Regions from separate parts of the Homo sapiens genome. Here regions 1 and 2 are each linked to region 3. Evidence: fine-mapped expression QTL. A gene starts in region 3. Each other region holds a variant in brackets. All regions are shown on one strand. Distances are between the middles of the regions.

Region 1 (8,183 bases), 26 kb after region 3:
TACAGATTAACAACAACAACAACAAAATATGAACTTCAGCATGTACTGTGTTAACCCAATTAAAAACCTTTTATCAAAGAATTTAAAATGGGTAAAGTAAGAAAAGTTAAAAAGTCCCTGTTTTGTCCTGAAATTTTAGTCTGTTGTGGATAAATAGGATTTTCTGACACAGGTATGCGAAGTTGTAGCTCTGATGTCTAGCTGTAGTCTCCTTGGTCTGCTGATTGCATTATTTTAATTTTCTTTTCTGGAAAAACATTTTTGCTAAAAGCTATACAGACTTTTTTGTTTGTACCTAGCAGTACTTTATGTAGTATTCCTTAGGGCTATGTAGCATTTTTAGACTCAGTTAAAAAATATTAATCTGTTGCTGACTCTGTTAATTCCTATTTCAACATGTGTTTCCTTGAATAATTCAGGATACAACTTACTGTGTATGACAGCTTTCCTTCACACACTATTTTTGTGGGTGTGTGTATATCCAACTTGGGGAGAATTTAAAAAACACATAGCTTTTTAATTTGTTTGAAACAGACCTTCTGCCTGTTACATTTTGTGCTCTTAACCAATTAAAGAAGCCAGTGGCAGCCGGGTGCTGTGGCTCACGTCTGTAATACCAACACTTTGGGAGGCCAGGGTGGGCAGATCACAAGGTCAGGAGTTTGAGACCAGCCTGGCCAACATAGTGAAACCCTGTCTCTACTAAAAATACAAAAAATTAGCTGGGTGTGGTGGTGGGTGCCTGTAATCCCAGCTACTTGGGAGGCTGAGGCAGGAGAAACGCTTGAACCCGGGAGGCAGAGGTTGCAGTGAGCCGAGATCACACCACTGTCCTCCAGCTCGGGCGACAGTACGAGACTCCGTCTCAAAAAAAAAAAAAAAAAGCCAATGGCATTTTTAGTTTCATATTGTGTTTTCCACTGGTATATACCTGTTGATTTGTTTGTGTCTTTTATGAACTGTTATTTTCTGAAATTTTTTTTCAATAAAAGGAAGGAAGATGTGAAAACAACTTTTTATCAAAGTGAATGATTTAAAATTAATACATATTGATTGTTTTTAAGATTCTTAAATAAAATGCATGAATATAGTTTAAAAGGTCAGGTACTACTGTAAGGCTTCTAACAGAAAGCAGCTGTCATGTGTGTTATTCTCCTCTCTACCCAGTTTTCACTTCCCAGAGGCTGATGCTCTTATGTGTTACCACTTCTGTTCTTTACTTCCTTACTCCTGTATGGGTGGCACAGACCTGGCTGTTGTTCTGGGAGTTGAGCAGGGAAATGGCATTGGGGATCTCACTGTTCAGAAGGTGGGCATTCACTATCCCCTAGCTATCAGTAGGGCTTCTTAGCCCCAGTCTCATCTATGCCTTGTAAGCTATGGGCATAGAGCCTCTCCACAGATTTCTTTGTAAGGATCGGGAGGGGTAAGTCATGTGTTTCTTATACAGACTTTCATCCATTACTTCTGTTTTTAGCCCAATCCTATAAGCATGCCTTCACACCTGTTTGTCCTTTTTTTTTTTTTTTTTTTGAGATGTAGTCTCACTCTGTTGCCCAGGCTGGAGTGCAGTGGCACCATCTTGGTCACTACAGTCTCCGCCTCCCAGGTTCAAGCAATTCTCCTGCCTCAGCCTCCTCATTAGCTGGGAGTACAGGTGCACACCACCATGCCTGGATAATTTTTGTATTTTTAGTAGAGACAGGGTTTCACAATGTTGGCCAGGCTGGTCTGGAACTCCTGACCTCGTGATCCGCCTGTCTCAGCCTCCCAAAGTGCTGGGATTACAGGGGTGAGCCACCACACCTGGCCACCTTTGATATTTTGAAGTGCTGGAGTGTTGGTACTGAATTCTTTTAGCTTTCATACATCTGAAAAATCTTTATTTTGCCTTTGTTTTGGAAAATATTTACTCTTAGTGTAGAGTTCTAGGCCAACGTATTTTTCTCAGTACTTCAAAGGTGTTGCCCCTTTGCCTTTTTGCTGACATTGTTTCTTTTTTTTTTTTTTGAGAGGGAGTCTCTCTGTTGCTCAGGCTGGAGTGCAGTGGTGCGATCTCGGCTCACTTCAACCTCTGCCTCCCGGGTTCAAGCAATTCTCCTGTCTCAGCCTTCTGAGTAGCTGGGACTACAGGCGCGCACCACCACGCCTGGCTAATTTTTGTATTTTTAGTAGAGACGGGGTTTCGCCATATTGGTCAGGCTGGTCTTGCACTCCTGACCTCAGGTTATTCACCTGCCTCTGTTTCCCAAAGTGCTGGGATTACAAGCATGAGCCACTGTGCCCAGTCTGCTGACATTGTTTCTGACAAGAAATACACTGTTATTCTTATTTTTGTTCTTTTGTACCTAATCTGTCTTTTTTGTCTGGTTGCTTTTTTCTTTAAATTAAAAAAAATTTTATTTTCGTGGGTACATAGGTATATATATTTATAGGGTATGTCTGGTTGCTTTTAAGATTTTATCACTGTTTTTGAGCAAATTATTATGTGTTTTGATGTAGTTCTTTTTTTTTTTTTGAGACGGAGTCTCACTGTGTCGCCCAGGCTGGAGTGCAGTGGCGTGATCTCGGCTCACTGCAAGCTCCGCCTCCCGGGTTCACGCCATTCTCCTGCCTCAGCCTCCCAAGGAGCTGGGACTACAGGCGCCTACCACCACGCCCGGCTAAGTTTTTGTATTTTTAGTAGAGACGGGGTTTCACTGTGTTAGCCAGGATGGTCTCGATCTCCTGACCTCGTGATCTGCCCGCCTTGGCCTCCCAAAGTGCTGGGATTATAGGCGTGAGCCACTGCGCCAGGCTGATGTAGTTCATGTTATTTGTATGTGGGTTTTGTTGAGCTTCTTGAATCTGCAGATTTATAATGTTTATCAAATTTGGACATTTTAAGGTTATTATTTCTTCAAGTTTTTTTGGTCTGTTACTCCCTTTGGAGACTCCTATTACATGTGCCTCTTGCTGCTTGAAGTTGTTCCACAAGATGTTCATTTAAAATTCTTTGGCCGGCGCGGTGGCGCACGTCTGTAATCTCACACTTTGGGAGGCCGAGGTGGGTGGATCACCTGAAGTCAGGAGTTTGAGACTAGCCTGACCAACATGGTGAAAACCCATCTCTACTAAATACAAAAAATTAGCTGGGTGTGATGGGTCATGCCTGTAATCCCAGCTACTTGGGAGGCTGAGGTGGGAGAATCGCTGGAACCCGGGAGGTGGAGGTTGCAGTGAGCCGAGATCGCACCATTGCACTTCCGCCTGGGCAACAAGAGCTAAACTCCATCTAAAAAAAAAAAAAAAGGCCAGATGCGGTGGCTCACGCCTGTATTCCCAGCACTTTGGGAGGCTGGGGTGGGCGGATCACCTGAGGTCAGGAGTTCGAGACCAGCCTGGCCAACATGGTGATGCCCTGTTGCTACTAAAAATACAAACATTAGCTGGGCGTGGTGGCGCCCACCTGTAATCTCAGCTACTTGGGAGGCAGAGGCAGGAGAATTGCTGGAACCTGGGCGGCGGAGATTGCAGTGGGATTAGGAAGAGTACTCAGTCTTGCCTCAGTAATGAGGAATAACAACACTCTGGTTCCATTTAACAAATCTAAACAGCAAGAACAGAAAAAACCAGAGTTTCCAAATTACTTAACTACATCTCAGAATAAAGCTAGATATTTTATAGGAATGCAAAAATAACCAGCACCCAACAAGGGAAAATCCACAAGTCTACATCCTATCAAAAATTTGCAGACATAAAAGAAGCAGAAAAATATAACCCAAATGAGGAGAAAAATCAATCAAAACTGTCTCAGAACTAACACAGATATTAAAATTAACAGAAAACAACTTTTTTTTTTTTTTTTAGACAGTCTTGCTCAACTAAAAATACAAAAATTAGCCGGGTATGGTGGTGTGCACCTGTAATCCCAGCTACTCAGGAGGCTGAGGCAGGAGAATCGCTTGAACCTGGGAGGTGGAGGTTGTGGTGAGCCGAGGTTGCGCCATTGCACTCCAGCCTGGGTGACGAGCAAAACTCTGTCTCAAAAAAAAAAAAAAAATAGGCCAGACATGGTGGCTTAGGCCTGTAATCCCAGCACTTTGGGAGGCCGAGGTGGGTGGATCATCTGAGGTCAGGAGTTCAAGACGAGTCTGACCAACGTGGTGAAACCCTGTCTCTACTAAAAATACAAAAATTAGCCGGGCATGGTGGCTCATGCCTGTAATCCCAGCTACTCGGGAGGCTGAGGCAGGAGAATCGCTTGGACCTGGGAGGTGGAGGTTGCAGTGAGCCAAGATCGTGCCATTGTACTCCAACCTGGGCAACAGAGTGAAACTCCGTAATCCCAGCACTGTGGGAGGCTGAGGCGGGCGGATCATGAGGTCAGGAGATCGAGACCATCCTGGCTAACACAGTGAAACCCCGTCTCTACTAAAAATACAAAAATTAGCTGGGCGTGGTGGCGGGCGTCTATAGTCCCAGCTATTTGGGAGGCTGAGGCAGGAGAATGGCGTGAACCTGGGAGGCGGAGCTTGCAGTGAGCCGAGATCGCGCCACTGCACTCCAGCCTGGCCACAGCGCAAGACTCCGTCTCAAAAAAAAAAAAAAAACAAATTGTATCTTTATTTTGTTTTAGGTTTTCAGGAAAATTAATTGCAACCTGCCCAGTTCCCACATTCTCCTTCAGTTTGCTCTGTTGTTTACATCTTGTAATAGTGTGATACATTTGTTACAATTAATATTTGAACCAATATATTGTCATTAGCTAAAACCCATACATAGTTTACTTTAGGGCTCACTCATTGTGTTGTACATTGGATTTTGACAACTGTATAGTGACACATGCCCACTATTACTGTATCATACGGAATAGTCACACTGCCCTAAACATTCTCTGTAATGTACCTATCTGTTCCTCTCTTCCCTCCCCACAAACTCCTCCACTGATCTTTTTACTGTCTCCATAGTTTCGCCTTTACCAGAATGTC[A/G]TATAGTTAGAATCATACAATATGCAGCCTTTTCAGATTGGCCTCTTTCACTTAGCAATGCAATTTTAAGATTTCTGCAACTCTTTCGTGTCTTGATAGTTCATTTCTTTTTATTGCTGAATAGTATTCTACATTATGAAGGCACCAGTTTGTTCATCCATTTGCCTGTTGAAGGACATCTTGGTTGCTTTCAAATTTTGACAATTAAGAATAAAGCTCCTATAAATACTCATGTGTTGGTTTTTGTTGAGACATAAGTTTTCAGCTCCTTTGGGTATATACCAAAGAGTTTTGGTTTTTTTTTTTTGGGACAAAATCTCGCTCTCTCACCCAGGCTGGAGTACAGTAGTGTGGTCTCGGCTCACTGCAACCTCTGCCTCCAGGGTTCAAGTGATTCTCCTGCCTCAACCTCTGGAGTAGGTGGGACTACAGGTGTGCACCACCACGCCCATTTTTTTTGTATTTTTAGTAGAGACGGGATTTTGCCATGTTAGCCGGGCTGGTCTCGAACTCTGGACCTCAGGTGATCCACCTGCCTTGGCCTCCCAAAGTACTGGGATTACAGGTGTGAGCCACTGCGCCTGGCCTAATTTTTGTATTTTTGGTAGAGACACGATTTCACCGTGTTGGCCAGGCTGGTCTGGAACTCCTGGCCTCAAGTGATCCACCTGACTTTGCCTCCCTCCCGAAGTGCTGGGATTACAGGCATGAGCCATTGCGCCTGACCTAATTTTTTAAATTTTATGTAGAGACTGGGTCTCACTATGTTGCCCAGGCTGGTATTGAACTGGGCTCAAGTGCTGCTGCTGCCACGGCCTCCCAAACTGTTGGTATTATAGGTGTGAGCCACTGCACCTGGCCAAGATGAATATTTTTTAGTTTCTTTTTCAACAACAGGAAACATCCAAATGCCTGGCTGGGTGATAAGCTAATTGCTTTCAACTTTTGTCTGTTTCAATTGGTGGGGCAATTTTTGCCTTCCATATTGCTCTGTATAACGCTGGATAATCTTCAGTAGAGTGCTGTAGTCAAAGCAAAGCACCTAAATAGTTGTACAGAACCTACAAGCAGGTGCTTAAGGCTCACATAAACATTACCTGTACTTAAGTATATATTACCTGTACTTTTCAATTTCTCCTTTACGGTTTCCTCCTTCTTAGTTTAATCTCTTTTGTTTGTATTTTCCTTTTTTTTAGGTTGCAGTTGTTCTGATGGATACCCAGGGGGCATTTGACAGCCAGTCAACTGTGAAAGACTGTGCTACCATCTTTGCTCTAAGCACTATGACTAGTTCTGTTCAGGTAAAAACCACTTGACTCAGAAAAAAGCTCGCAAAGGAAATAAGATAAAGGGAGGAAATACAGTTTTGGTTATTGTTCTGTTAACAGAATTTCTAGGATGATATGTAAATATTATTTTTAAACTGTAGATGCAGTTAAACTTTTAAAAGTTTGAGAAGGAGCCAAAGAATTTTTCCTCTTTGGTCATAATTATATATAATATGTTCCAAGAAAAGTCCAAAAAATGGAAATTTATTATATCATATAGAAAATACAGATTTGATAAGAGCTTAGGAAAACTGTTTTAAACTGTAAAGGAGGAATTTTTGATTTCAATCTTATGTGCATAGTTTTCCAAAAGACAGATCATATTGCTGTTTGAACAGGCCTCATGTTCTTATATGCAAGTCTTTAATTGTTCAAAGCTTCTGTCAGCCCTTTAGGCTTATTTGGGATTTGTTTGAAGTAAGCCAGAGTAGTATCAATCTGGATTTTTGTTTTCTAGATTTATAATTTATCTCAGAACATTCAAGAAGATGATCTTCAACAGCTGCAGGTATATATTTCTCATAACAATTTTAACATCATATTATTTAAAAGTTTTAAGATTAAGGAACATTTTACAACTGAGTAGTTTTTAGCAAAAGATTGAAATGTAGAGGAAGGTTTTTGGTTCATAGTAATTCTATACTATGTATAGCCATTGGTGGGGTGGAGCAGGAGTGGTCGGGGAAGGCCTTAATGATTTGAGCAGAGAATGAAAGAAAGTGGGCAAGTGAGTCCTTCAGATACATTTGGGCGGAAAACTATTACAGGAGAGGAGCAGCTGCTGGAAGACAGACCCTGAGGGGAGTGTGCTTGGCAAGATCAAGGAATGGCAGGGAGGCCGGTGGGTAGGATTGGAGAGTGTGACAGGAAGGGGTTAAGTGATGAAGTCAGAGAGGCAGTGAGGTCCCACTCATTCTGGGTCTTTTCCTCTGGGGAAGGTGGGAGCCATGGGAGGGTCGTCAGCAATGATGTTATCTGACCTGTTGTAAAGGGATCATTCTGGCTGCTATGTTCAGAATAGACTTTTTTTTTTTTTTTAAGACGAAGTCTTGCTCTTGTCCCCAGGCTGGAGTGCAATGATGCAATCTTGGCTCACTGCAAGCTGGGATTACAGGTGTGCGCCACCATGCCCGGCTACTTTTTGTATTTTTAATAGAGACGGGGTTTCACCATGTCGGTCCGGCTGGTCTCAAATTGTTGACCTCGTGATCCGCCTGCCTCGGCCTCCCAAAGTGCTGGGATTACAGGCATGAGCCACCGCGCCCGGCCTTTTTCTTCTCTTTTTTTATAGCAGCAGGTCTTATCTGTTTTTCCCACAAAATGCTCTTTTGTGAGTATTCCAGGGTTGGATGCAATTCTGGTATGTTACTCTAATGCTACTTCTCCCACTGACATTCAAGAAAGCATCAGAATGTGAGTGAGTAAGGGTGTCATTATTATAGGGATTACCTTGAATTAGTTCTATTTTATGTTTATTTTAAAAAACAAGGAAAATTCCTCCTAAACCTCGATCCTTAATGTTGCTTATGGCAATTGTCTGTACTTCATAATTGGTAGTTCTGTACCAGTGCCATGGCTTAGTGGTTGAGAGCTGTTGCTCTGTAAAACTTCGATCACAACTTGAGTTGGTCACCATTTCACCTGAAATTTATTCCTTTCTAAGCTCCTTCCTTTCAACCATTTTTCGAATGCTTACCTTGTGTGAGGTAGAGGGCCAAGTGCTATAGATATATGTAAGGTCACATTCACAGGTACCAGGTGCGAGGACTTTAGCATATTTTTCTTCAGGACACAATTCAACCCATAAGAAGTAGTAAGTAGATTATGATGCAGTTATGTAATTCACCTTGTCTCACATGACAAGGCTGTTGGTAGACTCAGCAAC
Region 2 (8,183 bases), 45 kb before region 3:
CATTATTAGGCACATACACACTTATAACTGTCAAGACTTCCTGGTATCTTTTATCATGATAAGATGTCCCTTATTTATTTCTGATAAAAGCTTTCATCTTCTTATGCTTACTGTTTGCATGGCATACATTTATAAATTTTTTGGGATATCTTTTCCATCCATTTACTTTCAACCTGTGTCTTTATATTTAAATAACATCTTTTGGCCGAGCACGGTGGCTCACGCCTATGATCCCAGCACTTTGGGAGGCCGAGGAGGGTGGATCACTAGAGGTCAGGAGTTTGAGATCAGCCTGACAAACATGGTGAAACCTCATCTCTACTAAAAATACAAAAATAAGCCAGGCGTGGTGGTGAGTGCCTGTAATCCCAGCTACTTGGGAGGCTGAGGGAGGAGAATCCCTTGAACCCGGAAGGCAGAGGTTGCAGTGAGCTGAGATCACGCCACTGCACTCCAGCCTGGGTGACAGAGTGAGACTCTGTCTCAAAAAATAAATAAAAATAAAATTAATTTAAAAACTAGTTGGGCATCGTGGCATATACCTATAGTCCCAAAAAGGTGAAGTGGGAGGATTGCTTGAGCCTGGGAGGTTGAGGTACAGTGAGCTGTGTTCATGCCACTCACTGCACTACAGCCTGGGTGACAGAGCGAGACCCTGTCTCCAAATATATATATATTTATAGTACCATTACATTAAAAATGTAGAAACAGGCTGGGCATAGTGGCTCATGCCTATAATCCCAGCACTTTGGGAGACCAAGGTGGGAGGATTACTTGAGCCCAGGAGATCAATGCCAGTGTTGGCAACATAATGAGACTCTGTCTCTACTAAAAAAATAAAAAAATTAGCTAGGTGTGGTGGCATGCACCTGTGGTCCCAGGTACATGGGAGGCTGAGGCACGAGGATTGCTTGAGCCCAGGAGGTCTAGGTTGCAGTGAGTCATGATTGCACCACTGCACTCCAGACTGGGATACAGAGCCACAGAGCCAGATCCTGTCTCAAACAAACAAAAAAAAAAAAAAAAAAAAAAAGCAGAAACCTTTGCTATAGTACAGTCCATATACTCGTTTTTTTCTGTTATAATTGTCCTAAGAAATAAACATCATAACCTCTATACACGTTATTACAATTTTTGCTTTAAGCAATCCTATATATTTTAAGAAATTAAGAGGAAAAAAATAAGCCTTTCATATTCACCCAGGTGTTTACCACTTCCAATTCTCTTCATTCCTTCCTAAAGGTCTGAGTTTTTATTTGGTATCACTTTCCTTTAATCTGAAAAACTTCCTTTAGCATTTCTTGTAGTGCAGGTCTTCTGGTAGAATTCTTTTAGTTTTCTTTTATCTAAAAATGTCTTTTAATCTTGCAGTTTTTTTGTTTTTTTTGTTGTTTTTTTCCTGAATACAGAAACCTGGGTTGACAGGTTTTTTTTCCCTGTTGGGCACTTTATAAGATGTTACTCTACTGCCTTTTAAACATCTGTGGTTTCTAGTAAGAAGTAAGCTCTAATTATAATTGTCATTTCCCTGTGTCATTCTTCTCTAGCTACTTTCTTTTCTTTTTTCTTTTTTTTTTTTTTTTGAGACGGAGTCTCGCTCTGTCGCCCAGGCTGGAGTGCAGTGGCGCAATCCCGGCTCACTGCAACCTCCGCCTCCTGGGTTCAAGTGATTCTCTTGCCTCAGCCTCCTGGGTAGCTGGGATTACAGGTGTGCACTGCCACCCCGGCTAATTTTTGTATTTTTAGTAGAGATGGGGTTTTACCATGTTGGTCAGGCTGGTCTCGAACTCCTGACCTTGTGACCCACCTGTCTCGGCCTTCCAACGTGTGGGGATTACAGGCGTGAGCCACCGCGCCCAGCCTCTTCTCTAGCTACTTTCAAGATTTTCTCCTTATTTTTGGTTTTCAGCAACTTGACTACGATACACTGTATAGGAAAGGGTGAAAACTCAGCAGGCCTAGAATGCCAAGCCCTGCACATGCCAAAGAAAGGTCTGTCTTCAGGACTAGCCCTTTGCTGGCTCCTTGGAGATGGCCTCTGAGCCCTTTGAATATTCTGCTTCATAAGTATTTTTGCATGCCTGAGGTCTTAGGCCATGCTGTATCAGATAAATTTATCCTAACAATATGATTTATTGCCAGTACATGTTTTTGCTCTGGGGGTCTGGGGTCTGAGTAGCTGAGTTCAGTCATATGGGCACTGCATGCCGTGCTAGACACCAAAGATTGAAAGAGCTTCCTTGGTTGGGAATCCTTTGCACATGTTATCACGCATCACTGTAAAAGAATTAAGTACATCCCTGTATGACTCCATTCAATACCTGGAAGCTTGCATCTGATCTCTCCTAGATTTTATCCCGTGTGTCTTTTCCTCTGGCCAATTCTAACCTATGTCCTTTTGCTGTAATAAACCATTAACTGCTAGTTTACAGTTTATGAGTCCTATGGGTCCTTCTAGCAAATCACTGGCCCTGATGGTTATCTTGGGGACCCCGACACATACACCAAGGTATGGTTTTCTTTGTAATTATCCTAGTAGGTGGTGTTTGATGAGCGTCTTTCATCAGTAAATGTGCCTTTCATAAAATTTAAGAAAATTTCAGCCATTTTATCTTTAAATATGTCCTTCTCCAGTCTCTCTCTCACTTTCCTCTCCTGCTAGGACTCCAATTATAAAAAATAGGTTTTGCAGGTCTCGCACTCCTGGGCTCAAGTGATCCTCCTGCCTCGGCCTCCCTAAGTGCTGAAGTGGTGGGATTACAGACGTGAGCCACTGTGCCTGGCCAAAGTTAGGTCTTTTGATATTGTCCCACAGGGTTCTGAAGCTCTGGTGACACTTTTAAAAAATATGTGTTCTTTCTGTTCTTTAGTATGCTATCAAGTTCACCAGCTTCTTCCCCTGTCATCTCCATTTTGCTGTTAAGGTCACCTGCTGAATTTTAATTTCAGTGGTTATATTTTACAGTTCTAGAATCCCCACCTGACTCTTTTTTGTTTCGATTTCTAGGTTGAGATTTTCTTTTTTATTCAATACAAGAATATTTCCCTTTACTTCTTTGAGTGATTAAAATGAAAACCCTTAAAATCCTGACTCCTAATTCCAACACATGCAGTTAGTTTCTATCGATTGTCTCTTTTTCTTCAGACTGAGTTATAATTTCTTGGTTCTTAAAACATGTAGTTTTGGATTATATCCTGGACATTGTGAATATTATGCTGTACAAATTCCAGACTGTGTTCTATTCCTCTGGAGAGTATCATTACTTTTGTTTTAACATGTAATAAATTTGGTTAGATTCAAACTGCAAACTTTTTTTTTCAAGATAGAGTCTTACTCTGTCACCCAGGCTGGAGTGCAGTGGTGCGATCTGCACCCCTGACCTCCCTGGGCTCAGGGACTACAGGCACAGGCCACCATGCCTGGCTTAATTTTGTATTTTTTAGTGGAGATGGGGTTTCACCATGCTGCCCAGGCTGGCCTTGAACTCTTGGGCTCAAGTGATCCACCTGCTTCAGCCTCCTGAAGTACTGGGATTACAGGCATGAGCCACTGTGCCTGGCCTTCAAACTACAAACTCGGCTCACTTCTTCTTTTTTTTTTTTTTTTTCAGACGGAGTCTTACTCTGTCACCCAGGCTGTAGTGCAATGGCATGATCTTGGCTCACTGCAACCTCCACCCCCAGGGGTTCAAGCGATTCTCCTGCCTCAGCCACCTGAGTAGGTGGGATTACAGGCGCCTGCCAATGTGCCCGGCTAATTTTTGTATTTTTAGTAGAGATGGGGTTTCACCAGCTTGACCAGGCTGGTCTTGAACTCCTGATCTCGTGATCCACCCGCCTTGGCCTCCCAAAGTGCTGGGATTACAGGCGTGGGCCATTGCACCCGGCCCAGTTCACTTCTTTCATCTCTAGTTGTGCTGCTTATAATCTTTTGTGTTAAGTGTGGTTTACAATTAAACAGAGGCTTAAACACAGTTTATTTTATCTACAGAATTTTAGGCTGTCACTCTCTGGATCTCTCC[C/T]TTCCAAGATTCCTCCTCCCCTTACATTCCACTGACTCAGTGGTTGTGGCTGACCCAAATGCTGTCCACTGCTTAGGTTTTCTATGAAGGTTTAAGCCAGCCTGTCAGGTGCCCACTTCAGCCTGTCCTCTAGCTAAAAGCAGTAAAAATAAAAAACTAATTTCATGCTGTCTCTTCTTACATGTGTCAACTCTCTTTCAGAATCTGACTGCTCCCGTTCATCCTCCAGTGCCTTCGGGTCTTTGTTTTTTAAAAATTTTGTCCAGTTATATGCAGGAAGGTCAGGTCCAGTAAAAGCCTACTTGGCCATAAGAAAAGAAAACCATTCTGACATTGCTTTTAAAAATTACTTCAGATTCCCTGTATATGTAGGTATATAGATTCATTTTTTTTCTTTATGGAATCTTTCTAGCATAGATTCACTTTAAATGATACCAAGATAGGAATTATTTTGTATTCCTTGTTTGGTAACTCTTTTCATTCCACTTTAGCACCCACCATCTGCTGGGTGCTGAACAATGTAGTTTTTACTAATAAATTACGAACATTTTTACATAACAGAAGACACTAACTTTGACAGTAACTAGAAAAATAAGGCACAGAGCTAGAAGTGAAACTGATAAGCAGTAGCACCCTAACGCTGGGGAAATAGTCACATATGTGTAAAAACAGACAAGTATAACAACGTTAACTTAAGGCCGGGCGCGGTGGCTCATGCCTGTAATTCCAGCACTTTGGGAGGCCGAGGCGGGCGGATCACGAGGCCAGGAGATTGAGACCATCCTGGCTAACACAGTGAAACCCCGACTCTACTAAAAATACAAAAATAAAATTAGCTGGGCGTGGTAGCAGGCGCCTGTAGTCCCAGCTACTCAGGAGGCTGAGGCGGGAGAATGGCATGAACCCGGGAGGCGGAGCTTGCAGTGAGCGGAGATTGCACCACTGCACTCCAGCCTGGGCGACAGAGTGAAACTCCTCCATCTCAAAAAAGAAAAAGAAAAAGGAAAAAAAAAAAGAAGAATGTTAACTTCAGCGCTGTCTATAATAGCAAAAAATAGGAAAGAATCTAAATCCTTACCAAAAGAAAATAATATATTCATATAATGGATTACTACATAGCTGTTAAAATGAATAAATTATATAAATTCCAACATGAAAGAAGTTTAAAAACCTAATGTTGAATGGAAAACGTTATACAACAAACATGATAACATGAATGAATGGTTAAAAAGCATAAAACAATACAAACACATTTATTTAAAATAAACTGGAAGGATGTACCAGGTCCATGACGGTGTTACGTCTGGGGAAGGGGAGATGGAGGGCGTGGCCAGGTGGTAATCAAAGAGTCCTTTAGTTTGGAAGCAAATATGACTACCAATGCTAACAATTAACATAAGTTAATTCTACATATAGAGAAGATATGGGTGTAGGCTGCCTTTGTACTTTTCTATATTTTTCCATTTCTTAAAAAAAAAAAAAACAAAACTTTAACAACTTCAATGACTGTGTAATATTCGATTGCACAGTTATACCATAATATACTCAACCAATCTCTAATTGTTAAGACACCGAGATATCTGCCACTATCATAAACTGTGCTATAATGAACATCTGTGTAGTTATTTTTGCACATTTTTAAAAAAGGATAAATTCCAGCTGGGTTCCGTGGCTCACGCCTGTAATCTCAGTATTTTGGGAAGCCAAGGCGGGCGGATCACGAGGTCAGGAGTTCGAGACCAGCCTGGCCAATATAGTGAAACTCCGTCTTTACTAATAATACAAAAAATTAGCCGGGCGTGGTGGCAGGCACCTGTAATCCCAGCTACTTGGGAGGCTGAGGCAGGAGAATCGCTTGAACCCGGGAGGTGGAGGTTGCAGTGACCCGAGATCGTGCCATTGCACTCCAGCCTGGGCAACACGGTGAGACTCTGTCTTTAAAAAAAAAAAAAAAAAAAAAAAAGGGCCGGGCACGGGTGGCTCACGCCTGTAATCCCAGCACTTTGGGAGGCCGAGGTGGGCAGATCACCAGGTCAGGAGATTGAGGCCATCCTGGCTAACATGGTGAAACCCCGTCTGTACTAAAAAATACAAAAAATTAGCCGGGCGTGGTAGCAGGCGCCCGTAATCCCAGCTACTCGGGAGGCTGAGGCAGGAGAATGGCGTGAACCCGGGAGGCAGAGCTTGCAGTGAGCCGAGATTGCGCCACTGCACTCCAGCCTGGGCGACAGAGCGAGACTCTGTCTCAAAAAAAAAAAAAAAAAAAAAAAAAAAGAATTCCTAAAAACAAGATTGCTAGGGCAGTTCTAGGTCTGTTACATATTGCCAACTGCCTTCCAGAAAGGCTGTAACAATTTACATGTACTTCACCAAACTATATGCTTATTTCCTTGCATCCTGCCAATCTGGATACTAAAACACAAAAAACTATCTTCACTACACTAGGTATGTGAGAGGCAGGGATCTGATTTTCTTCCCCAAACTATGAGAGTCTATCATAACTTAATTACTCAGCAACCAACTATAATATGATAAAGGCTTCATTACAAGCTGTTACATAATATACCATAAAATAGCAAAAACAAACAGAAAACCACTAATTCTTTCATTGTTTCTTTTGCCTATTTTCCCAAACAACTTAAGGCAGAATATAATTAAAGCACTGTTTTTACCTTAGAAAGGAAGAATATGCAGATACACGTATTTAAAACTAGACAATCGGCTGTGTGTGGTGGCTCAGGCCTGTAAATCCCAGCACTTTGAGAGGCCAACGCAGGCGGATCACTTGAAGCCAGGAGTTTGAGAGACCAGCCTGGCCAACATGGTGAAACCCCATCTCTAGTAAAAATACAAAAAATTAGCTGGGCGTGGTGGCACACGCCTGTAATCCCAGCTACTCGGAAGGCTGAGGCAGGAGAGTCGCTTGAACCCTGGAGGTGGAGGTTGCAGTGAGCCGAGATCGCGCCACTGCACTCCAGCCTGGGCAACAGAGTGAGACTCTGTCTCAAAAAATTAAAAAAAAAAAAAAAAAGATAAATAAATAAAACTAGACACTGATGCATTTTACTGAAATGGTTTATGTTTTTATTTATTTATTTCACTGCAATGAAATGGATTATATTTTTAAAGATTTATTCATAAATAAGACAATTTTAAAAGGTTTTCACTTTTGAAAGCTGCAAGAAAGGCCTTTAAACTTCTTGGTCTAACTATACCGGTCTTCTTTAATTACAATCTAAAAACATACACTAATCATAGACTTTGGTCAGTGACAAATATCCTGAACTTCCATAGCCCTTTACATCTCTCACGCTAGATTAAATAATTCAGTTGATAATCACTAATAATTAGCATTTACACAGCACTTTATTTACTGCAACATACAAAGCAGGGCAAAATAATGATCATCACATTAACAAAGGAAGATGCTGAACCAATTAGACTAGTCATCTAAGGTCATGCTAAAACAGGAATTTGCCAGAATTAGACACTGGAGTTCTTGTAGCATAATTCCTATATGCCTTATTGCCCAAAAGTTACTACCTGTAAGAATTATGACAACTGAGGAAGAAATCTAGAATGTACCAGAGCCAGAGAATCATATTATTTAAATGATAATTGAAGACCATCTACTTCACTTTACATCCTCACTTTACAGATATTAAAACTGAGGCCCCCGAAAGGTTATGTAAGTTACTTGTTCAAAGTCATACTTCTAGACACAGCACAGCAAGAATTAGAACCTAGTACTCTTTAATCCAAATTCAGTGAGCTTCAAATGCTAGAGTATAAGAGCTATCCTTAATTGGTAATTCAAAATTTTTGGTTTATCAAAAAGCCTCAATGTCTTTCACTGATAATTGTTAGTGAAATAATTCATATCATTCATTCAACAAATAATTATCCAGTACTACTTATGTGGCAGGCCCTGTATTTGGTGCTAAATCTGACTGCATATTTACTATGTGCTAGGCACTGTATTACCTGCATTTTCATATTTAATCCTCACAATACCATTGTAAGGTTAAGTACAATTTATCTATTTTAAATATTAAAACTTAAAAAGATAAATCTACCTACAGTTTCCAGTAAGAAAATGCCTTTATAAAAAGGCACAAAATCAAACACAAAATACATTTAGCCTAACAAAAATCTAATTTT
Region 3 (8,183 bases):
ACTGCAGTATCTTAAGGTAAACTTTTATGTTCAAGTAGTGACCCAACAAATGAGGATCTTGCATTGGGCCCACCAAAACTGTATTAGTGCTTTTTAGACAATATGAATGCACATTTGCAATGGATAAGCATTTAAGATAAGAGTCTCTTGGCTGGGCTCAGTGGCTCATGCCTGTAATCCCAACACCTTGGGAGGCCGAGGTGGGCGGATCACTTGAGGTCAGGAGTTCAAGACCAGCCTGGCCAACATGGCAAAACCCCATATCTAGTAAAAGTACAAAAATTATCTGGGCGTGGTGGTGCATGTCTGTAATCCCACCTACTCAGGAGGCTAAGGTGGGAGAATGGTTTGAGCCCAGGAGACAGAGGTTGCAGTGAGCCAAGATCACACCACTGCACTCCAGCCTGGGCTACAGAGCGAGACTCCAAAAAGAGTTTCTCTTTAGTTTATTTCTCAAGTGTGCCTTTCTAGCTCGTAAATTTGATAATTTATTCAACAAATACTTACCAAGTACTACTATATATCACTGTTTTAAGTGCTAATAGTGATACGTGTCTACAGCACATCTAAGAAATACAAATTCTGTAATAAAATTTTACTAAGAAATAATGGGTAAAGCTGGTCACAGTGGCTCCCATCTGTAATCCCAGCACTTTGGGAGGCCGAGGAGGGCAGATCACATGAGGCCAGGAGTTTGAGACCAGCCTGGCCAACATGGCAAAACCCCATCTCTACCAAAGATATAAAAATTAACCAGGTGTGGGCCGTGTGTGGTGGCTCATGCCTGTATTCCCAGCATTTTGGGAGGCCGAGGTGGGCGGATCACGAGGTCAGGAGATCAAGACCATCCTGGCTAACACTGTGAAACCCTGTTTCTACTAAAAATACAAAAAATTAGCCGGGCATGGTGGTGGGCACCTGTAGTCCCAGCTACTGGGAAGCTGAGGCAGGAGAATGGCATGAACCTGGGAGATGGAGGTTGCAGTGAGCTGAGATCGCACCACTGCACTCCAGCCTGGGCGACAAAGCGAGACTCCGTCTCAAAAAAAAAACCAAAAAAAAAAAAAAAAAAAAAAAAACCAAAAGAAAATTAACCACGCGTGGTGGCACACGCCTGTAATTCCAGCTACTCGGGTGGCTGAAGCATGAGAATCATTTGAACCCCGGAGATGGAGGTTGCAGTGAGCCAAGATGGCTCCACTGCACTCCAGTCTGTGACAGAGCAAGACCTTGTCTAAAAAAAAAAAAAAAAAAAAAAAAAAAAAGAAAGAAAAGAAAAGAGAAAGAAATAACGAGTGGAAACCGCGGCATTTAATATTATTCGGAAAATGTAATGCAAACTCATGTACTTGGAACAGCACTTCACGATATAATTCTACTACTTTCGACAAAACACATAATTTCAGCACCTTTTCCACTATTATAAAGAGAAGTGCAAAAAATACACAATAAATAGATAAAAATTGTGACAAGGGTAGATGACATAAAAAAAGGTAAGCCAAACAGAAATATGTTATGTCATTAAATTCGTATTGCCAATTTAGGTGCCAATTAGGTTGTGGTATGCCTGTGTGTCTGTGAACAAAATACTCTTATTTCATTGGCCTACTAGGCCAGTTCTTCCATAAGTGCATTAAAAGAATGAAAAAGTTGAATCTCAAATGATTTCACCATTTAGTTATAAACAAACTAGGACTAAATTTTCAAATCTGCTAACTAAAATGACTCTTCAACACTTAACATCTGTCTTATCTTGAGCTTACAGAGCCAAATTTCTAAAACTTAGGTCTGAATCAAAAATGAAAAATCAAGAAAACCCAAAAGGTAAGTACAAAAGGGCCTACCAAACAGTAAGCAATGACAAGTGATTAAAGCAAAAAGATCAAGTTGCTAAGTTATAAGGAAGTCGCTGTTCATCTGGACCTTAGCCCAGAACACAAAAATTTGGAGAAAAGGCTGGTGGTTTAAAGGAGACAGGGTTCTAAATTTGCTGCCTCATTCTTTTATCTGCAAAAGCTTCCTGATACTGCCTGTTTCTACTGAAATGGCCATAACCACACTGAAAAAATCCAACAGGGCTCCAAAGCTCTCAGACAGGTGAAAATTCACTGCTAGAAAAACACGTAGAGAATAATACATTTAAGGTTAAGATCAGAAATTTTTTCTTTAGAACCCAAGATTCTGCCAAAGGAGACAACGAAGCATTAAAAAAAAATGATCAAAATCCTTTAACATAACTAAATAGAGAGCAAAATTATCTCTACTCTCCCGAATTTACGGCCCTGCCTTTGACAAAAGGCATTTTTTTTCCCTTCAAAGACTCCGTTCCTTTGAGAACTACCACCTGCCCATGGTGGTTTTTTTTTCCCCCCTTAAGAAGGCATCTGCACTGCAGATTTCTGCATAAGGGGAGCTTGCCAGGCAGCTCTTACCAGCAGGCAGACGCGTATACAATGCAAACTAAAGGAGGTCTGCAGCTTCGTTCTTAGTCTTTCACAGAGATGGGAGAAGGGGACTCAACCAGCCCTTGCTTTGTCTGAATGTTCTCCCCCTCCCCCTTTCTGCAATAAACACCCCCCTTTGTTATACTTCGATCAATAGTAGCCCACAGAAAACATGAAATCAAAACATGTTGATAGCTTAGCATGACTCTATTTTCTAGAATATAAGCGACTGATTGCGTGTCCCCACCCCCACGCAGCGCCAGGGAAGAGCAGGCTGTTGCAGATGCAGCCACGGATCCATCTTGGACCATTAGCAGCTCCCTCCCAAATCTTCCCTGAGCTATTCTCATCACGCCTCCTTCTACCTCGGAGCCTCAGAAAAATCCGGCATTCATGGAGTCTAGCCGAAAACAGTAAAAACAAAACAAACAAACAAAAAAAACAGGCTACAATGCTTCCATTAAACTTCCTCATCCTTCCCATGGGCAGCCAAAAATATTTTGGAGGACTATCATGAATGCTTGATTATGTCAACACCTGTCTGCAAACCTGCAATGCAACCCTTTCACCACCATCCCCTCAAAAATAGTAACAAATTGTTTCTCCCACCACCCACCTGCCCGTATCCTTTCAATCTCTCTAATCCTCACTAAATCACCCAGGTTCACCATATGCATCGAGCAACTCTCCATTTTATCCCACGAGCTGGTATTTTTCCCCACCTGCCCAGTCTTGGCGTTAACGCCCACTGGACTATCTCCCCGCCCCCAACCTGTTTTCCTCACACCCCGCTATTTCCTCACCGCCTGCACAACCTTACGTTCCCCTTCCCCTTTGCCCATTTTCCAAACGCTCGTCCCCGGGGGGCTGAAGCCGTCAGTAGTCGAGGGTAATTCGTCCTCCTCCCGCCTCGCCTCCTAATCCCCCCAGCCCCCAGGCTCCCGCTCGCCCTCTTTCCCAGGGCGGGGGCTCCCCGCGCGCCTTACCCGCACAGGAGGAGCTGCAGCTCTTCGTCCCCAGGGCGGGGCAGGCTCCTGGGCTCCCGCCGCCGCCGGGCGCGGACGGCTCGGCTCCGAAGGACGACGAGGAGATGGAATGGGACTGAGTGGCCGCCGACGGCTCCGCCATGGCTACGCGAGCGAGGGTGGGAGAAGGGTGAAAAGAGATACGGGGCGGGAGAGAGGGAGGGGAAATAGAATAATCCGGCAACTGGCTCGCTCAAGTCCCTTTACTCCGCCTGCTCCGAGGACAGACTCCGACAGACTGACTGACTCAGCCGAGCGCAGCTAGAGGGCGGGAGCGCGAGCGCGCATGCGCACAAAGGGCCCCAAGCGGGTGCCAAAGCGCGCAGCGGCGCAGGGCGCAGGCGCAAGAACCGCTCCTCTGCGCTCTTGCAGGGAAGGAGGGGCAAAGCCGGCCTCACGCGGCGCCTCGCGCGCCGAGGGTTGGGGAGCGTCCCTTGGGGACCAGACGCAAAAGGCGTATCCAAGCCCCAATCCCCGCCCACGACTGCGGCTAATCGTGGAGCTGCGGGATAGTATTCCCTCCTGCCTCTTTATGTGAATGTTTTAGGGTCGGCAGATTATGTATTTTAACGGTAGAAATGTCTTTGGGCTTCCATTATGGAAACTCTCTTTCCCGTACATTCCAGAGCCTATATCTTTTGTTTGATGCATTCCCACCTGTGACTCCAATAAAAACTGAAAACCAGAGTGTAGAGTAGGCCCACTCTGCAAGGTGCTTTGTGAATCTCACTGGCTGTGTCGTAATATCTCCTCACCGAGAGGCAGAGATGGCACGGCCCCCCATTTGGTAGGTGGAGAAAGATGCTATACAGAATGAAAAACGATTACTCATTCCAATCACATTGCAATGCAGTCGCAGAACCTGCTTCGTATTCTTATCTCGTTACTGTTGCCAGAGAAGGGTCCACCTTGGGTCTTAAGGTTCTCTTTTCCTCCGAATAGACTGTCAGATAGAGACGACATATTTTAGAGAGGGAAAAAAAATGCTGAGCTGATGAAGAAGAGCCAGGAGATAAGAAAATGTTGGCTGTGATTATGGGGGATGATAAAATTAGATATTAAAAATTCAGAATAAGGCCGCAGTCAGTGGCAGAGGCCCGTAGTCTCTGCTACGGCAGAGAAGGGAGGATCACTTGAGCCCAGGAGTTGGAGTCCAGCCTGGGCCACACAGCGAGAACCTTCCTGCCTTAAAAAAAAAAAAAAAAGTAAAAAAAATCAGAATAAGGCACAAAATACACATAATTGAATTTTATTCATAGACTAAAAGAGGTCCTTAGCAGAACATGTATTTAAAACCAGATTTCTAGCCTATATTGGATTTTGTTCATTTTTTGCTTTTCCTGGGCTGGATTGCCAAATTCGAAGCCTTCTCCCTACATCTGGTCAAAATATTGGAAAGGTGCATAGTCTTTGTTAAAGGAGGACTGTTGGCTGGGCGCGGTGGCTCACACCTGTAATCCCAGCACTTTGGGAGGCCGAGGCAGGTGGATCATCTGATGTCAGGAGTTCAAGAACAGCCTGGCCAATGTGGTGAAACCCTGTCTCTACTAAAAATACAAAAATTAGCTGGGGGTAGTGGCGGGCGCCTGTAATCCCAACTACTCGGGAGGCTGAGGCAGGAGAATTGCTTGAACTCGGGAGGCAGAGGTTGCAGTGAGCAGAGATCTCACCATTGCACTCCAGCTTGGGTGAAAGAGCAAATCTCCGTCAAATAAAAAAAAAAAAAGGAGGACTGTATCCTGGAAATAATAAAAATCAAGGCTGTCGACTGTTACTGCTAAAGCAGCAATCGATGACCCAAAGTACAATTGCAGGATCAGCAGATCCTGTAAAGATGCAGCCTCATGAAGCGGGAGGTGGTCAGCCAAGCTGCCACTGAGGGGAAAGGCGATCTGACCAGTGGAAATCTTCTAGAACAAGCTGTGTACTACATCTGCCCTTGAGTTTTTAAGGTCAGGTAAAGCCCCAGGGGGTGGGAGGATGACTCCTGGCCTTTGCAATGCTCTGAAAAAGGCATAGAAAAATATTTCCCAAAATAACTTTGTGGCTAATACCTTACCCTGGCACTTACTGCATCAGCTGATAATGCAGCAAACTGTCTCTTGGATGGCAAAGGGAAATAATAGCAGATCGGATAACCAAGCCAGTTATCTACCCATTCTGATACGTGCATATGTTTTTTTAAAAATCGCATTATTAGGGGAGCTGTTTTCTTCTTCCTTCCTTCTTTCTTGTCTATTAAACGCTCTGCTCCTTAAAACAAAACAAACAAACAAAAATCTACATTATTAAGTGCTAGATAAGGAAATAAATGATGCTGGTAGCTAACTCTGACAGCACTTGCTACAATCTGGAGACTCCAGCTGGAAGGAAGTCCATTTTCCTAATATGTAGCAGCAGAGAAGTTAAAAAGCAAGATATGCACGTGGTCTTACTGGTCTTTTCAGACCCTTCAGACATTTTTTTTTTTGAGATGGAGTCTTGCTCTATTGCCCAGGCTGGAGTGCAGTAGTGCCATCTTGGCTCACTGCAACCTCCGCCTCCCGGGTTCAAGCAGTTCTGGTTCAGCCTCCTGAGTAGCTGGGATTACAGGCACATGCCTCCATGTCCGGCTAATTTTTGTATTTTTAGTAGAGGCGGGGTTTCACCATGTTGGCCAGGGTGGTCTTGAACTCCTGACCTCGGGTGATCCTCCTGCCTCAGTTTCCCACACCTGGGATTATAGGCGTGAGCCACTGTGCCCGGCCAGTTCTATGAATGTGTATTGATCATGTGCTGTGTGTATAACACAATTCTGGGAACTTTGAAGAGACCTCCAAAATATGTTAGTCTTGTCTTCAATGAGCTTACAAGCTAGTTAGGACAAAAAACATACTCACATAAAGTTAAATAATATAAATTAAATAGCAACTAAAAACAACCCCAAACACCATAAAACCATAGTGCTTTGATTAGATGGCAAGTAAATTAAATGAATTTAAAAGAGAGGGGCCAGGCGCAGTGGCTCACGCCTGTAATCCCAGCACTTTGGGAGGGCAAGGTAGGCGGATCACCTGAGGTCAAAAGTTTGAGACTAGTCTGGCCAACATGGAGAAACCCCATCTCTACTGAAAATACAAAATTACCCAGGCATAGTGGTGTGTACCTGTAATCCCAGCTACTCGGGAGGCTGAGGCACGAGAATCACCTGAGCCTGGGAGGCAGAGGTTGCAATGAGCCAAGATCATGCCACTGCACTCCAGCCTGGGCAACACAGTGAGACTCCACCTCAAACAAAAACAAAAACAAAAACAAAAACAACGAGGGGAAGGAATTACCATGAAGTTGTAGTGGCTTAGGGAGGTTTTTTTTTTTTTTCTGTCACCCAGGCTGGAGTGCAGTGGTGCGATCTCGGCTCACTGCAACCTCTGCCTCCCAGGTTTAAGTGATTCTCCTGCCTCAGCCTCCCGAGTAGCTGGGACTACAGGTGCGTGCCACCGTGCCTGGCTAATTTTTTGTATTTTTAGTAGAGACGGGGTTTCACTGTGTTAGCCAGGATGGTCTCGATGTCCTGACCTCGTGATCTGCCTGCCTCGGCCTCCCAAAGTGCTGGGATTACAGGCGTGAGCCACTGCGCCCAGCCAGGAGGTTTTGTGAAGATGCTCAAAGTTAGATAGGTGTTTGGAATTGTAAGGAAGTCATTAAAAGCAGAAAAGGATGGTATGAAGCAAATACAGGGGTTGCTTTTGTGAATGTATACAAAAAAAGTACTCTTCTGGGCAGATGAATCACAAAAAAGAACCTCTTTCTCCCAGCCCCACCCATGATACAGTTCCATGCTGATTTGGCTAGCAGAACCTCACCTAGATTTGATCCCCTCTTGCCCCTTGTCTCCACAAGCTGCCTTGGTGTAACACTCAGACTGTACAGCCATATGTGGTGGCTAAAGGCTCAGACGTGAGCGTGTATAAGGTGTCTTGGGTGTTGGTTAGACCAAATTGGCTGGAGCTGAAGGCTTGAATTAGGACAGGAGGGAAGATATAGGGATAACATCTAAAATGAGGAAGATATGTTGGGGCCAGTTTTTGGAGAAGCAGTAGTATTGAACCAAAGAACTGAGGCTTTGTCTTAAGAATAATGGGGATTGAGTGGAAGTTTTTGGTGGGAAATGGCTCAGCTGGGATTTTTTTTTTCCTTTTTTTTGTCCAAGATGGGATTTTTTTTTTTTTTGAGATGGAGTCTCACTCTGTCACCCAGGCTGGAGTGCAGTGGCATGATCTCAGCTGACTGCACCCTCCACCTCCTGGGTTCAAGTGATTCTTCTGCCTCAGCTTCCCGAGTAGCTGGGACTACAGGCCCATGCCACCATGCCTGGCTAATTTTTATATTTTTAGTAGAGACGAGGTTTCACCATGTTGGCTAGGCTGGTCTTGTACTCCTGACCTCGTGATCTGCCTGCCTCAGCCTCCCAAAGTCCTGGGATTACAGGCGTGAGCCACCGCGCCCGGCCCAAGATGGAATTTTTAAAGTGCTCCCTGGCTGTCATGGTGGCTCACCTCTGTAATCCCTACACTTTGAGAGGCCAAGGCAGGAGGATGGCTTGGGCCCAAGAGTTCAAGACCAGCCTGGACAATATAGCGAGACCTCATCTTGAAAAATAAAATAACTCCAGGCGCGGTGGCTCACGCCTGTAATCCCAGCACTTTGGGAGGCCGAGGTGGGTGGATCACGAGGT

Evidence for each region. PIP is the estimated chance that this variant, and not a neighbour inherited with it, causes the effect. A credible set is the group of variants that fine-mapping cannot tell apart.
Region 1: its variant is the best candidate, but not a certain one, in a credible set for the expression of RTN3 in whole blood (TOPMed, PIP 0.67).
Region 2: its variant is the best candidate, but not a certain one, in a credible set for the expression of RTN3 in whole blood (TOPMed, PIP 0.59).

What each region holds. Positions count from the first base shown.
Region 1 is chr11:63,650,559-63,658,741 of GRCh38, reverse strand. It overlaps ATL3 (atlastin GTPase 3), which reads left to right. Exons shown (of 13, transcript NM_015459.5): 4 at 6,167-6,271; 5 at 6,756-6,806. It overlaps LNCROPM (lncRNA regulator of PLAAT3 mediated phospholipid metabolism), which reads right to left. Exons shown (of 4, transcript NR_199012.1): 3 at 7,995-8,182. Among named protein-coding and RNA genes, the nearest start is that of ATL3, 17 kb to the left of the region's middle. The variant A/G (reference allele first, on the strand shown) is at 4,971.
Region 2 is chr11:63,722,287-63,730,469 of GRCh38, reverse strand. All of the region lies in intron 3 of RTN3 (reticulon 3), which reads right to left. Among named protein-coding and RNA genes, the nearest start is that of ZFTA, 42 kb to the left of the region's middle. The variant C/T (reference allele first, on the strand shown) is at 4,023.
Region 3 is chr11:63,677,026-63,685,208 of GRCh38, reverse strand. It overlaps RTN3 (reticulon 3), which reads right to left and starts at 3,709. Exons shown (of 9, transcript NM_001265589.2): 1 at 3,431-3,709. The coding sequence starts at 3,572. RefSeq lists a silencer at 3,417-3,536.